4 separate regions of the Homo sapiens genome follow, and regions 2, 3 and 4 are each reported to be linked to region 1. The links are microRNA targets in miRTarBase. Many come from high-throughput screens and were not tested one by one. Region 1 holds a microRNA gene; each other region holds the end of a gene's coding sequence.
Evidence for each region. Region 1 holds the annotated microRNA hsa-miR-328-3p (CUGGCCCUCUCUGCCCUUCCGU, at 1,037-1,058, opposite strand). A microRNA usually pairs through its seed, bases 2 to 8, with sites in the 3' UTR of a target mRNA and lowers its output. Matches are read on the target gene's strand: a 7mer-m8 pairs with bases 2 to 8, a 7mer-A1 pairs with bases 2 to 7 and ends in A, and an 8mer does both.

Region 1 (3,152 bases):
TCGTGATCCGCCCGCCTTGGCCTCCCAAAGTGCTGGGATTACAGGCGTGAGCCACCGCGCCCAGCCTAAGCCCCCTTTCTTTCTACCCCCTCAGCACATGCTTGACTATCTTTGGCAGAGGAACCTTCGCCAGTTCATCTATAAGGTAGGAAGTGGTGGGCCAGGGGGACCTCTCTGCCCCTCCCTCCCCGTGAGCCCTCGCTTACACCAGGGACTGGCTGTCCTGCAGAACATCATCCACAGTGCAGCACCAATGGGCGACGAGATGGCTCATCACCTGTACGTACTGCAGGCTCTCATGCTGGGGCTGCTGGAGCCGCGCATGCGGACGCCCCTGGACCCCTACAGCCAGGTGTGTGTCTTTGGTGAGGACAAGGCAGGGGGTGGCTTAGAGCTTGGCCTTGAATCTATAATCTTGATCCCCTCCCCCGCCACCCAACACTGACCCCAGGAGCAGCGGGAGCAGCTGCAGGTCCTACGCCAGGCTGCCTTCGAGGTGGAGGGGGAGTCCTCGGGTGCCGGGCTAAGTGCTGACCGTCGCCGTTCCCTCTGTGCCCGAGAGTTCCGCAAACTGGGCTTTTCTGTGAGTATCACCCCTACCCAACTCCCCACCCCTGCCTCAGCCCAGGGCTGTTGTTCCAGGCGGCCGTGGCCCTTCTTGAACTGCCTGTGCCCACTTCCCCCAGAACAGCAACCCAGCACAGGACCTGGAGCGCGTGCCCCCCGGTCTGCTGGCCCTGGACAACATGTTGTACTTCTCCAGAAACGCGCCCAGCGCGTACAGCCGGGTCGGTGACAGGGTAGGGTGGGGGGGTGGCAGCATCCCCCAGGCAGGGTCCCCATGGGCTTAGCTGTGACTCCTTGCCCCATTCTCTGCGCCCCCAGTTTGTGTTGGAGAACAGCAGCCGCGAGGACAAGCACGAGTGCCCCTTTGCCCGGGGCAGCATCCAGCTGACGGTGCTGCTGTGTGAGCTGCTCCGTGTTGGGGAGCCCTGTGAGTGGCCTGGACTGGGCACAGCATGGCCAAGAGCAGGGGACGGAAGGGCAGAGAGGGCCAGGGGCTGTATGCACTTTCTCCCTGAGCCCCTCCTGCCCCCCCACTCCAGGCTCTGAGACAGCCCAGGACTTCTCACCCATGTTCTTCGGCCAAGACCAGAGCTTCCACGAGCTCTTCTGTGTGGGCATCCAGCTGTTGAATAAGACCTGGAAGGAGATGCGGGCTACACAGGAGGACTTCGACAAGGTGGGTGGGGTGGGAGCTGGGAGGCCTGGGCCAGGGCAGGGGGCTGATCTGGGTACAGAGCTTAGGCCCTGAGCTGAGCTTGGGCGGCCCCAGGTCATGCAGGTGGTGCGGGAGCAGCTGGCCCGCACTCTGGCCCTGAAGCCCACTTCCCTGGAGCTCTTCCGAACCAAGGTGAATGCGCTCACTTATGGGGAGGTGCTGCGGCTGCGGCAGACTGAACGGCTGCACCAGGAGGGCACACTGGCTCCCCCTATACTGTGAGTCTGGGGGGATGGATCCTCAGTCCTAGCCCTACCTTCCTTGGTGCCCCCTGGGCTACTCCCCAGGTCAGATGTGCTCAGTGACACCCCTCTATCAGGGAGCTGCGGGAGAAGCTGAAGCCAGAGCTCATGGGCCTGATCCGCCAGCAGCGCTTGCTCCGCCTCTGTGAGGGGACGCTCTTCCGCAAGATCAGCAGCCGGCGGCGCCAGGGTCTCTGAATGGGCATGGGCAGGGGGCAGAGGGCAGGCAGAGGGCAGGCAGAGGGCGGCTGGCTTGGTGTCAGGACCTCTCAGCACTCTGGCCCTCTTCCCTTTCTCCACGCAGATAAGCTGTGGTTCTGCTGCCTGTCCCCCAACCACAAGCTGCTGCAGTACGGAGACATGGAGGAGGGCGCCAGCCCGCCTACCCTGGAGAGTCTGCCCGAGCAACGTAAGGCGGGCAGGGGCGGGGGCCAGATACCTGCTCTCCCCAGACCGCCCTGGGCCCCGGGGCTGCCAGGGCTGCAGTGCTCAGCCCAGCCTTCTTCCTGCAGTCCCTGTGGCCGACATGAGGGCACTCCTGACAGGCAAGGACTGCCCCCATGTCCGGGAGAAGGGCTCCGGGAAGCAGAACAAGGTGAGTACAGCGGGCCAGGGGCTCCTTCCCACCCGCCCCCGCCTACCCTGTCCCCTGCTCAGTGTCCCCGCTCCCTTGCTTCCCCAGGACCTCTATGAGTTGGCCTTCTCAATCAGCTATGACCGTGGGGAGGAGGAAGCGTACCTCAACTTCATTGCCCCCTCCAAGCGGGAGGTGAGTGTCCGCCAGGCTGAGGTCGGCAGGTGGGCAGGGGAGGCAGATGGGCAGACCCTCACGGCTCTGTGCCACCCCCAGTTCTACCTGTGGACAGATGGGCTCAGTGCCTTGCTGGGCAGTCCCATGGGCAGCGAGCAGACACGGCTGGACCTGGAGCAGCTGCTGACCATGGAGACCAAGCTGCGTCTGCTGGAGCTGGAGAACGTGCCCATCCCCGAGCGGCCACCCCCTGTGCCCCCACCCCCCACCAACTTCAACTTCTGCTATGACTGCAGCATCGCTGAACCTTGACAGTGTGGCTGGCCATGGGCCACAGCTGCGGCCACTGCAGCAGCCATGAAGGGCAGTGGGTAGAGGAGTGCAGGCACCCTGACCAGCAGAGATTGCTGCAGAAATAAAGTCTGCTTGGCTCTTGGGATATGTTGAGCCAGCTCTGTACCTTGCGGGCTGAGCCTGTGACAGTGACAGTCTTCCCCTTCTGCCTTCAAACTTAGCTGGTGGATAAGATGGGGCATCAGGCCAGGCCACAAACTTTGACAGCTACGGTTGAGGGGCTGGTGTTCTGAAGGGGGTGGGGAGAGGCTGGGACTGCAGCCTTTCTCCAAGGTGAGTCCTCAGCCTCCCTCCATGCTGGGCCTGCAGGGAGGGTTGGCCTGTGGTCTGGGGGCACCTGCCAAGGGAGAGGCTGAGCTGCCGGCCTGCTGCAGGAGAACTGGCAGGGTAGGAGGCACTGCCCCAAATGGATGCCTTCCTGGACAGCGTTAACAGGGGCGTAGTCTGGGAGCCATCTCCAGAAGGCTCCTGACAATCTGACCTCAGTCCTCAAGCTTGCATGGCCCTGCCTGGTGTCCTTTGT
Region 2 (3,156 bases), not on the chromosome of region 1:
CATTTAGTTTCTATGCCTTTGCATATGTCAACCTGGATTATAATGAAGAACATTGTTGCTAAAAATGGATTTTCCGGATTATTTTCAGGTAAAAATACTTGCTTTACCGAATCATTGAATAGAATGATTACTTTTAAAATATTACCTTCTAAAATTAACTTATAGGAGGAAGTTATAGGTAACATACTACATTTATTTTCTCCTAAATATCTTTATTATAAGTTAAAATAAATGTTAAATAAAAGATTTACTATCAATAAGATAAAAATTTCTCTATAATGTAATATGGATTGAAGTGAGGATGTTGGAAGTGAGCAGTCTTTTCTACCAATTTATGGATTTGAACATATTACTTCATTTAATTTGATAATTATCAGAATAAAGCCAAAAAATAATATTTTTAAAAATAAGGTAAGAAAAAAATATTTGTTTTGATTATTCCTATTCTTTTCTCAGGCCTAATTCCTCGCTTAATTAAAATTGCTCCTGCTTGTGCCATTATGATCAGTACATATGAATTTGGAAAGGCTTTTTTCCAGAAACAAAATGTTCGAAGGCAGCAATACTAGTGATGCTGTTTCAACTTGAAACAACAACTATAGCCAAAGAAGATGGAGACTCTTAGGCAAGAATGTTTTTCACCATTATTCTCTCACAATGATTTTATGTCTTTCTTTCCTATAATTTAAATAAATAATTTCAGCTCTACCTCTAAATCATAATTTTAAAATAAATTTTATCTTATTTTTGGTGATATTGAAAAAGATATTCTAGAAATCACCACCATTGAGCATTCTTGTAAAAATAGATTACTCCTTAGCATCAAAAGCAGTCTCTTGAAAGTTTAATATTATATGTTTCAGTGTAACATAATCTTACTGGGAGTGTGTTGAATACACCAGAACTTTTTGAATTGTGTGCTGAATGATGTACATAGTCTAGAAGAAAAAAGCCCAAGTCTTGTGCACATTTAAATCGTGTACATAAGTATTTCCGTATTTCAGTAAAGTAGATAAAGCACTCGTTAAATAGCATTGTTTACATCGACCAAATATTGCCTGTTTCCTTTAATTCAAATGCATTAGGTTCCCGCCTCCCTCTCCTTCCCCGCCATGTTGCTGTTTTAAGGCTTCATATGTATTAACATTTCTCTGATCAAAATTGTGGCTGTTTTCCTTATGAACCATAATATAATCATTTGTGTGATGTACATTGTGCCATTTTTGATGACTAAATGTCTATATTTCTGCCATTCCTGTAAGAGAGGGAGTTTTTTACTGATAGTAGCAAATGTTCACTTCAGTCAAACTTGGGTGTTCAGTGGTAAACCATATAGTATTTAGACTGGTAAAAATAGTTTGCACACAGGAATAGCCTCTGATTTTTAGCTCTCTTGTAATCCAAGTATCATTGTTCATGGAATTCTCTAGGTCATTTTTATTGTGTTGTTCTAACAAGACAGATTATTGCTACAACAATAGTTACAAGATATTTCTAAAATATCCTTTGATTTTTACTCTAAGTATGGTAGAGTAAGAGGCTAAACAAGAAGCTGTTTCCTTGAAGACATTGCTTTCAGTCACCATACATGTCTAAATAATTTAGCTTATCATTCATTCTATGTAGGAATGAGATAAGAAAGGATATGATGGCAGGAAAAGAAATGCTATTCATTTTTTATACTTTAGTTTTATTTTCTTAGGATCTATATCCTATATATATATATTTTTTAAAGCACTAATTTATTGCAGTCTTTATTTTAGAAAAATGTGAAGCATTTTTTTCTCCCCTAAAATGAATATATTTAGATGACAAGTCTTTAGTGCTGGTAGAGGAACTAATTGATTTTGTACTATAGTAGGAAAGTGTTTATATGTTTCACCAGAAATAAAATATGTAGGGTTTGTATGTAATCTTCTGTGTTTATCCTATGTTGATTTACCTTAAATTTGCAACATACATATCCACATAAATATTCATGACTTTCTTATATTTCATTAAAATGTTTTATGGCTTCTTAAAATCATCACTGTGCTTCTAAATATTTTTACGTAAAATCATTGTATAATGCTATACTGTGATATACATGAAAGTTTATCTTGAACAGTGCTCTTTAACAATATTAAATTTAAATTTATCTTGGTTTTGCTATGCTTATGGGTAATTCATAGAAAACAGAAAAAATACTGTTCCCAAAAGGCAGTTATATATTTCAGTTTAATATCACCTATAAGTATGAGAAAGGTTTCCATGTCTCCTACCCCTCACTGCACTTAGGAAAATTCTTATTTATGAATAAAGTAAGATAAGTAAATCTAATTGCCTAGTCGTTTTTTTAACACATATACATGCAATGTATCTGGATGAATAGAAGGCTGAATTGAAGCTTTCTTTATATTTAAGAGGTAAAAAGAAATATTAATACTTTTAAAATATACTAACAACCAAAAAGTGTTCAGAATTTTGCTATAATAATAATTTGTATTAAAATAGTACCTAGAAAAATTCAGTCTATGGAATAGGTAAAATTTTAAAATTTTAATTTGCTCTCAGAGTTCTGTCTGATAAAATAATTGAACTATAATTGGCATGATGAATATTCCCAGGTTTTACTTCAGTATATAAATTTAACTCTCAGCCACATGGGCTTTCCAGACTTTTCAATACATATGATGTTGCAGGAATTGCAATATTTGCAAACATGTGCCACAACAGTGTTCTTGGTGATGTTTCTAAAACAGTTTTTATTCTATTAATGTTAAATTTTCTAACATAAACATTTAATTGATTAATGTAAAATTTTAGGAAGGAACATCTTTAATTTTCAATATGAGATGGTTGCAACCTTTAAAGTAGTACATATTTGATTTTTTTTAAAAGGCAATATTTTTTTTTCTAGGAAAACTATTCATTATGGTTATTTAACTGCATATGTTTTTTAAATTTTTCCCTCTTGGAACAACATGTACTGGGGCCTATCAAAGGGTGGAGGGTGGGAGGAGGGAGAGGAACAGGAAAAATAACTAATGGGTACTAGGCTTAATACCTGGGTGATGAAATAATCTGTATAATAAATCCCCATGACACAAAAGTTTACCTGTGTAACAAACCTGCATATGTACCCCTAAACTTAAATTCTTCCCTCTTTTTGTCTTG
Region 3 (3,152 bases), not on the chromosome of region 1:
ATTACATTTATGTAATAATAATTGCATTCTTTTTTACCCTCTTCTTTGACCCCTACATTTGGGTTGGAAAGTGAGGTAGGACAGAGGTTGTCAAGAGGTGATTCCAATCCAGTTTTCAGGGCTGTTCTTAAAGAACTGAAATGCATTTATTTCCCTAATAAAACATATTATTTATTTGATTTATATTTATAAAGCTAATATGGGACATAGTCAAATTTACATAACTTATAAGCTCTTGGTGTATTTCAGTCATTTCGTTTCAGTACACACAGATATAATAGTAGTACTTATTTCTTCACAGGTTTTACAACTGCCTACAGCATGCTTTGGAAAGGGAAACGATGACTAACTTACATCCCAAGATCAAAGAGAAAAATAACTCATCATATATTCATAAGAAAAAAAGAAACCCAGAAAAAACACGTGCCCAGTGTATTACTAAAGAAAGTGATGAAGAACTTGAAAATGATGATGATGATGATCTAGGAATCAATGTTACCATCTTCCCTGAAGATTACTAAGCTTTGGTTCTGATGTGTCTTGGCCGTAATGTTTCTAGTAGGTTTTATAAAGCTGCTCTTCATAAGAGTATTTTAGTTTGTTGAGTGTATCAGCCATTCATAAGCCAGTAATGACAAGTGCAGAGCTTCAAACTATAACTTTGTTGCCCAGAGGATGTGCAGTTGTCATCTAAGCTCTCAGCAGTACCCGGCTTATCCTACGACTTCACCTGAAATGCTATAGTTATCCCTACTTTTTTACCAGTTTCTCCCAGAAGCACCTGCTTAATAAATCAAAGATGTTTGAATGGTGTCTTATTCTGAAATAACCTGACCTAAGACAGGTATTTAGATTATTTTGGATACATTTTGAAAAGGGATAGCATAAATATTTTAAGTAAAAAGACCTTTATTTTAAATAATAGTGGATATTTTAATGCTGGAAATTAGCATTATAGTTGATATGCCAGAAATTATATCTTTGGTTGTGATTTAAACTTATGCTATAAACTAAATTAATGATGTAAATACATAGTTTTAAACATTCTTTTAGGGACATGTAACTTTTAAGTATCACTTCAATAATACGTATTATTATAGGAACAAAGATTTGGGAATAATTGATTACAGGTGAGGAAGTACTGGAATTCCAGTTCAAGGAGATACCATTTCATTTAGGACTAAAAGGACAAGATACAAGTTCACATGATGGGAAAAATCAGAAAACCTCTCGCAGACAAAGGGTATATAATGGATATGAGGCATCAAAAAGCATGGTATAGTCAGTGATGGGGAATAGTCCAGAAAGGCTGAAACACAGCATGTGATGCGAGTCAAGGTAGTTGATGCCCAACTGTGAAGGGCCGTTCTAATCTAGCATGGAGGTAGACAGTGTTTCCTTAATATGGCTGCATATCAGAATTACCTAGGTCAGGACGAGGCATGGAGATGCTACTTTAATAGGCCCTGCCGCAGATCTTCCAAACCAGAATCTTAATCCTGGAGTCTAGGAATCTTTATTTTTCACACAACTCATCCAAGTGGTTCTGATAAAATCAGTCCAGCACTTTTAGAACCCACTGATAACAGACTTATTCCTGGAGACAGCATTTGAGGAGGAATTGAAGATTTTTCTAATGAAAAGAAAAAGGGTCACATGAACAGATGTTGCAGTGTACCTGTGCCAGGGATTTCATGTGTACACTTTATAGGAGAATAAGCAAGAGCTTAGGTAAGTTATAGTCCTTACCATTGGGTCTAAGGCAGTTTCCAGGAAAGCATGGCAACTCGTTCAGCTATGTAAGTTGAACTCTGTACCACTTGGGAGGGAACATTCCCCTAGATGACAATGTCAGTGGCACTCGAAGTTGTGCAGTGCACATTCTTATCTACCAACATATACAGCAGTCCTTCTGGGAAGGAAATTTGGGCAGGAAAGGGAACTCACAGTGTCGGAATGCCTGGAGCATTTCTTCTAGTCTGGTGGACAGAATATGAAAGTATCTGCCTGGCAGTGCAGTAAATGAAAAGAGAAGATAAATGAATAAAAAAAAAAGTTATAAATAACAGTAGGAAAGAGAGAGTGCAGGTGGAACGAGCCTATCCTGTGGTGAAATGACAACACATTCTGCAGTTTTAAAATCTAAGAGGCTCATTGACTTTTCTTCATTCATTTAAATTGATCTCCAAGAAAACTATGTATTTTAAAGATTCCATAAACTGAATATATGAATGAGAATTAAGAAGAGAGGGGCTGCTTCCTAATCTGTTTATATAAGGTATAGTATAGTATAATCTGTTTATATAAGGTTAGTAGAGAGGAGACACCAGGTGCTGGCCATAAACCTAAGAAGACATTGAATCCCATTCACTCCTTAACATTCCTTAATATACATTCATGAGCTACATAACATTTTAATCATCAATGATGGACCATATACCATATACGATATGGTGGCCCCATAAGATTATAATGGACCTGAAAAATTCCTATTGCTAGTGATGTGGTCATTGTAAAGCTGTAGCACAACACATTACCCACGTTTGTGGTGACAGTCATATAAAAGTATGGTACATATAATTATGTACAGTGCATACATAATACTTGATAATATGTTACTGGTTTGTGTCTTTGCTATGCTTTTTATCATTATTTTAGGGTATACTACTTAAAATGTTAACTGTAAAACAGCTTCTGACAGGTCCTTCAGGAAGTACTCCAGAAGAAGGCATTGTTATCATAGAAGGTGACAGCTTCATGTGTGTTATTGCCCCTGAAGACCTTCCAGTGGTACAAGATGTGGAGGAGGAAGACAGTGATACTGAGGATTCTGACCCTGTGTAGGCTTAGGCTAATGTGTGTGTTTATATCTTAGTTTTTCACAAAAAGGTTTTTCCAATGTTAAAAAAAATATATAAAAAAGCTTATAGAATAAGGATATAAAGAAATATTTTGTACAGCTGTACAATAAGCTAAGCATTATTACCAAAGAGTCAAAAAGTTTTAAGAAATTAAAGTTTATAAACCAAATGTTCATTGTGAGCCAAGGTTAATTTATTGAAGAAATAAAACATTTTTAATGAAATTTTGTGTAGTCTTAGTGTCCAGTGTTTATAAAGTTTATACAGTAATACGTTTATACAGAACATCCT
Region 4 (3,127 bases), not on the chromosome of region 1:
CCGCTTGCCCATTTCCCAAGCCCACACCAGGCGGAAGGGAAGAGGGTTCCTGTGTTTTTCATTTTTATACAATATGTTTACAGTTATGTTGCTTTAATCTTTTAAAGTATTTAACCTTTTAAAGGATTTTTTAGCAACAAGTCCCTTCCTCTGACTTCTCTGTGGCAGTGATGTGGGCAGAGCAGGGCTTAGGAGCTCCCTGGGATTTGCCACCCATCACAATGGTTTCGGACATATTGGAGGGGAGAGGGCCACAGCCCACAGAACTGCTGCCTGAACAGGGACCTATGAATGAAGTACCGACCGCTCCGAGATCTGTATGAGTTGGAGGCAGGCCAGTGTGAAGGTGTGGGAGGAATCCGCCCACACCCAGCTTCATACAGCACCCTGAGGACAATGTGGCTTCCCTGATTCACACCTACTGAGCCAAGGCCCCCTCTGAAGTTAGGTCAAGAGGGCCCACCCTAGCCGGGCCAACTCATTCCTTTGAGGACCTGATACTCAATGAACTGCTTACTACCAAAAAAATGCAAAGGATTCAGCAAAAAGTGCAATTTCCATTTGAGAAGTAAGATTCTCCCCAAAACATGACACCACCTTTTCATCCTTTCAGTACCTCAAAGGGAAAGGGAAATAAAAGGCATACAGCACTAACCCTCCGAACCACAGCCGGGGCTTTAAAAGTGTGGTTCACCCTTTAGAACCCTAAAAGACCCATTAACACGTCCAGTCAGTTATCGAAGTGCCAGTGAGGTGAGGGGCGTGGCAGAGTCAGGAGGGACCAGGAGGCTGGAAGAGCCCGCTCACATTCTCAACAGGACACACCTGTCCTGTTTACAGCAGGACACATTACTGTGGCAACAGCCACAGGACTCCAGGGACTTGGTTATTCCTTCATAAAACCTTGTCAACTTCATTGCCTATTGGAGGATAAACTCAAAACATCTTCAAAATATAACCTGAGCCACAATATAAAATAAAAAGAAAAAATCTTTTCATGTTAATGCCTTAAGAAGTTTACAGATTATGTACCAATAAAATAAATCCACATAAATTTGAAATTCTTGGTGGATACACACCTGAAGCAAAAAAAAAAAAATTAATCTACATTTTAAAAATCAAAGTAATTACAGCAGCAGTATAGTGAAAAGGTTTTAAAAATAATAATTACATCTTTGATACAAATTCAAACTTTGTACACCTCAATTCATAGGAATGACTGTTTTTGAGAGCTTAGTGTATATATATATATATATATATATATATATATATATATATATATATATACACAGTAGATTCCGATATGTGTCACGGCAGAGAGAGACGAAAGCCAGTGGACTTTGGGGAAGGAGGGATTAATCTGACACTGAATTCACGCTGAAGTGTTCACAGATTGCCACGCTTCTGAACATACACACACACATACAGACACAGACACATAAAATGCCAACCTGAGTAAAACGTTACTAAAAACCTAGAACATCATGAATCACTAATTCACATATTGCACCTTTAAATAATCCTTCATACCAAATACAGACATGAGAAAAAGGATAATACAGGGACAAGAAAAGGATTTCTGCCACTGTAGGATTCCTCTGCTTCTCCCATTCCCACCCACAGAAATTCTCAAGGTGATATTTGAGTCGCCATTCTCACCCAACCAATGGGTTGAAAATGTTGCCAACAGAAGAGTCTTTGGAGAAAACTGGGAGGGAAAAGGGAAGAAAAAATGGAGCACAAATGTACAGGGGGCAGGGGAAGCGGAGTCGGGGCAAAGAGGCCTCCCCTGATCAAATGAGAACAGAAATGTTACTGAGGAAGCAAACCTCTGATGCTAAGCTACTGTTTAAATATTCCGTATATTCCAATTATGAGATTCAGTACAAAAATATAGATCTCTACTGAGTTTTGCCTGTGGAAGCATAATTCAGAAAAGGCACATGTTCAAATAGAAAACCCATTCGGAAGAGGTGCCACGTACCCCTCCCTGCGCAATCATCATCCACAATTAGGTATTTTCCATCGGCTAGATTCCAAGACACAGTAGGTAAAAATAGACCTCTGATACTTAAAATATATTCAACCCAACACAATCCTGGCTTTAGCATGTGAATCATATAAAATAGTCTTTTTTAAAAAAGAAATTGTTTTGGAAAAAAAAATCATAGCTCCCTTTTCCTGGTTTTCCACAATCCTCAAGGGGGAAAAAAAAAAAAAGTGACCTCATCCCATTGGTCATCAGGAATGCAGATGATTTGCTCCCCACCCATCCACAGCCCCCGACAGCCCCAATTTGTCATCTATCATATGCAGCTTCATGCCCTCAAAATTAGTTCTCACAAAACAGAACAAAGAATTAAGATATTAGACATATAAAAACATGTCGACATCGGGGCATGTGCCTTCGCTGTGGGTGCGACGGTCTGGTTCACTCCAGAAAGGTTATTCCTTTGGAATTAGGCGATGTAACCATTGGTCTTTCCAAATGTGGTCACGGGCGCAAGGTTTTCATAGATTGTCATTGCAGTTGTGTTCTGGTAGATAAGATCTACTTTTGAGTCTTTCTGGGATCTGACAATATCCAAAACACACTGATTGAGGAAAACATACTGGTCCTGATAGAAAAACGAAAGAGAGAGACAGAAAATGAACATGGGTCCCAGAAATTAGCACCCAAAATTATTTTCAAACAGGTCATTCCCCCGCCCAACTCCCAAACCCCATCCACCCAACAGCAAACGGTTCAAGCGAACATGTTTCAAGAGGTAACAACATTGCAGTGAAATCTGAAATCACAGAAGCAAGATGTCCTTCCTCAATGATTCTCAACCAGAAGAGCACACTCCACACCTCCCCTCCCCAAGGAAAAATGCCACAGTCTCAGGGAAGGGCAAAGGAAGGAGGAAATGTAGAGGAAAAAATGCACACACACATTCGAACAATCAAATGTCCAACAAGATTGCCTTGGCTAGTGAGACTGTACAGAGTAAGAATCAACTGTAATGCTCAACCGAGGAGCGAGGTTAAAAGGAGATGATCAGGTGGAGCTGGATGAGGACTATCCTTCAGGTAGGTATATCAGAATCTGTGGATAGTGATGAAGAAAAGAGGAAACAAGGGTATA

Region 2: the mRNA of SLC25A40 is a reported target of hsa-miR-328-3p. The part of its 3' UTR that is shown has no 7-base or 8-base seed match.
Region 3: miRTarBase lists TYW3 as a target of hsa-miR-328-3p. The part of its 3' UTR that is shown has no 7-base or 8-base seed match.
Region 4: miRTarBase lists PTPRJ as a target of hsa-miR-328-3p. The part of its 3' UTR that is shown has no 7-base or 8-base seed match.

Annotation. Positions count from the first base shown.
Region 1 is chr16:67,201,291-67,204,442 of GRCh38, forward strand. MIR328 (microRNA 328) reads right to left here and starts at 1,105; the gene lies at 1,031-1,105. ELMO3 (engulfment and cell motility 3) reads left to right here. Exons shown (of 20, transcript NM_024712.5): 9 at 95-145; 10 at 230-352; 11 at 452-583; 12 at 687-788; 13 at 886-994; 14 at 1,107-1,243; 15 at 1,337-1,500; 16 at 1,602-1,714; 17 at 1,829-1,933; 18 at 2,037-2,119; 19 at 2,207-2,293; 20 at 2,375-2,714. The coding sequence ends at 2,587.
Region 2 is chr7:87,833,662-87,836,817 of GRCh38, reverse strand. It overlaps SLC25A40 (solute carrier family 25 member 40), which reads left to right. Exons shown (of 12, transcript NM_018843.4): 11 at 8-88; 12 at 457-3,156. The coding sequence ends at 569. Among named protein-coding and RNA genes, the nearest start is that of SLC25A40, 41 kb to the left of the region's middle.
Region 3 is chr1:74,763,593-74,766,744 of GRCh38, forward strand. It overlaps TYW3 (tRNA-yW synthesizing protein 3 homolog), which reads left to right. Exons shown (of 6, transcript NM_138467.3): 6 at 302-3,085. The coding sequence ends at 521. Among named protein-coding and RNA genes, the nearest start is that of TYW3, 32 kb to the left of the region's middle.
Region 4 is chr11:48,166,695-48,169,821 of GRCh38, reverse strand. It overlaps PTPRJ (protein tyrosine phosphatase receptor type J), which reads right to left. Exons shown (of 25, transcript NM_002843.4): 25 at 1-2,618. The coding sequence ends at 2,460. Among named protein-coding and RNA genes, the nearest start is that of OR4B1, 49 kb to the left of the region's middle.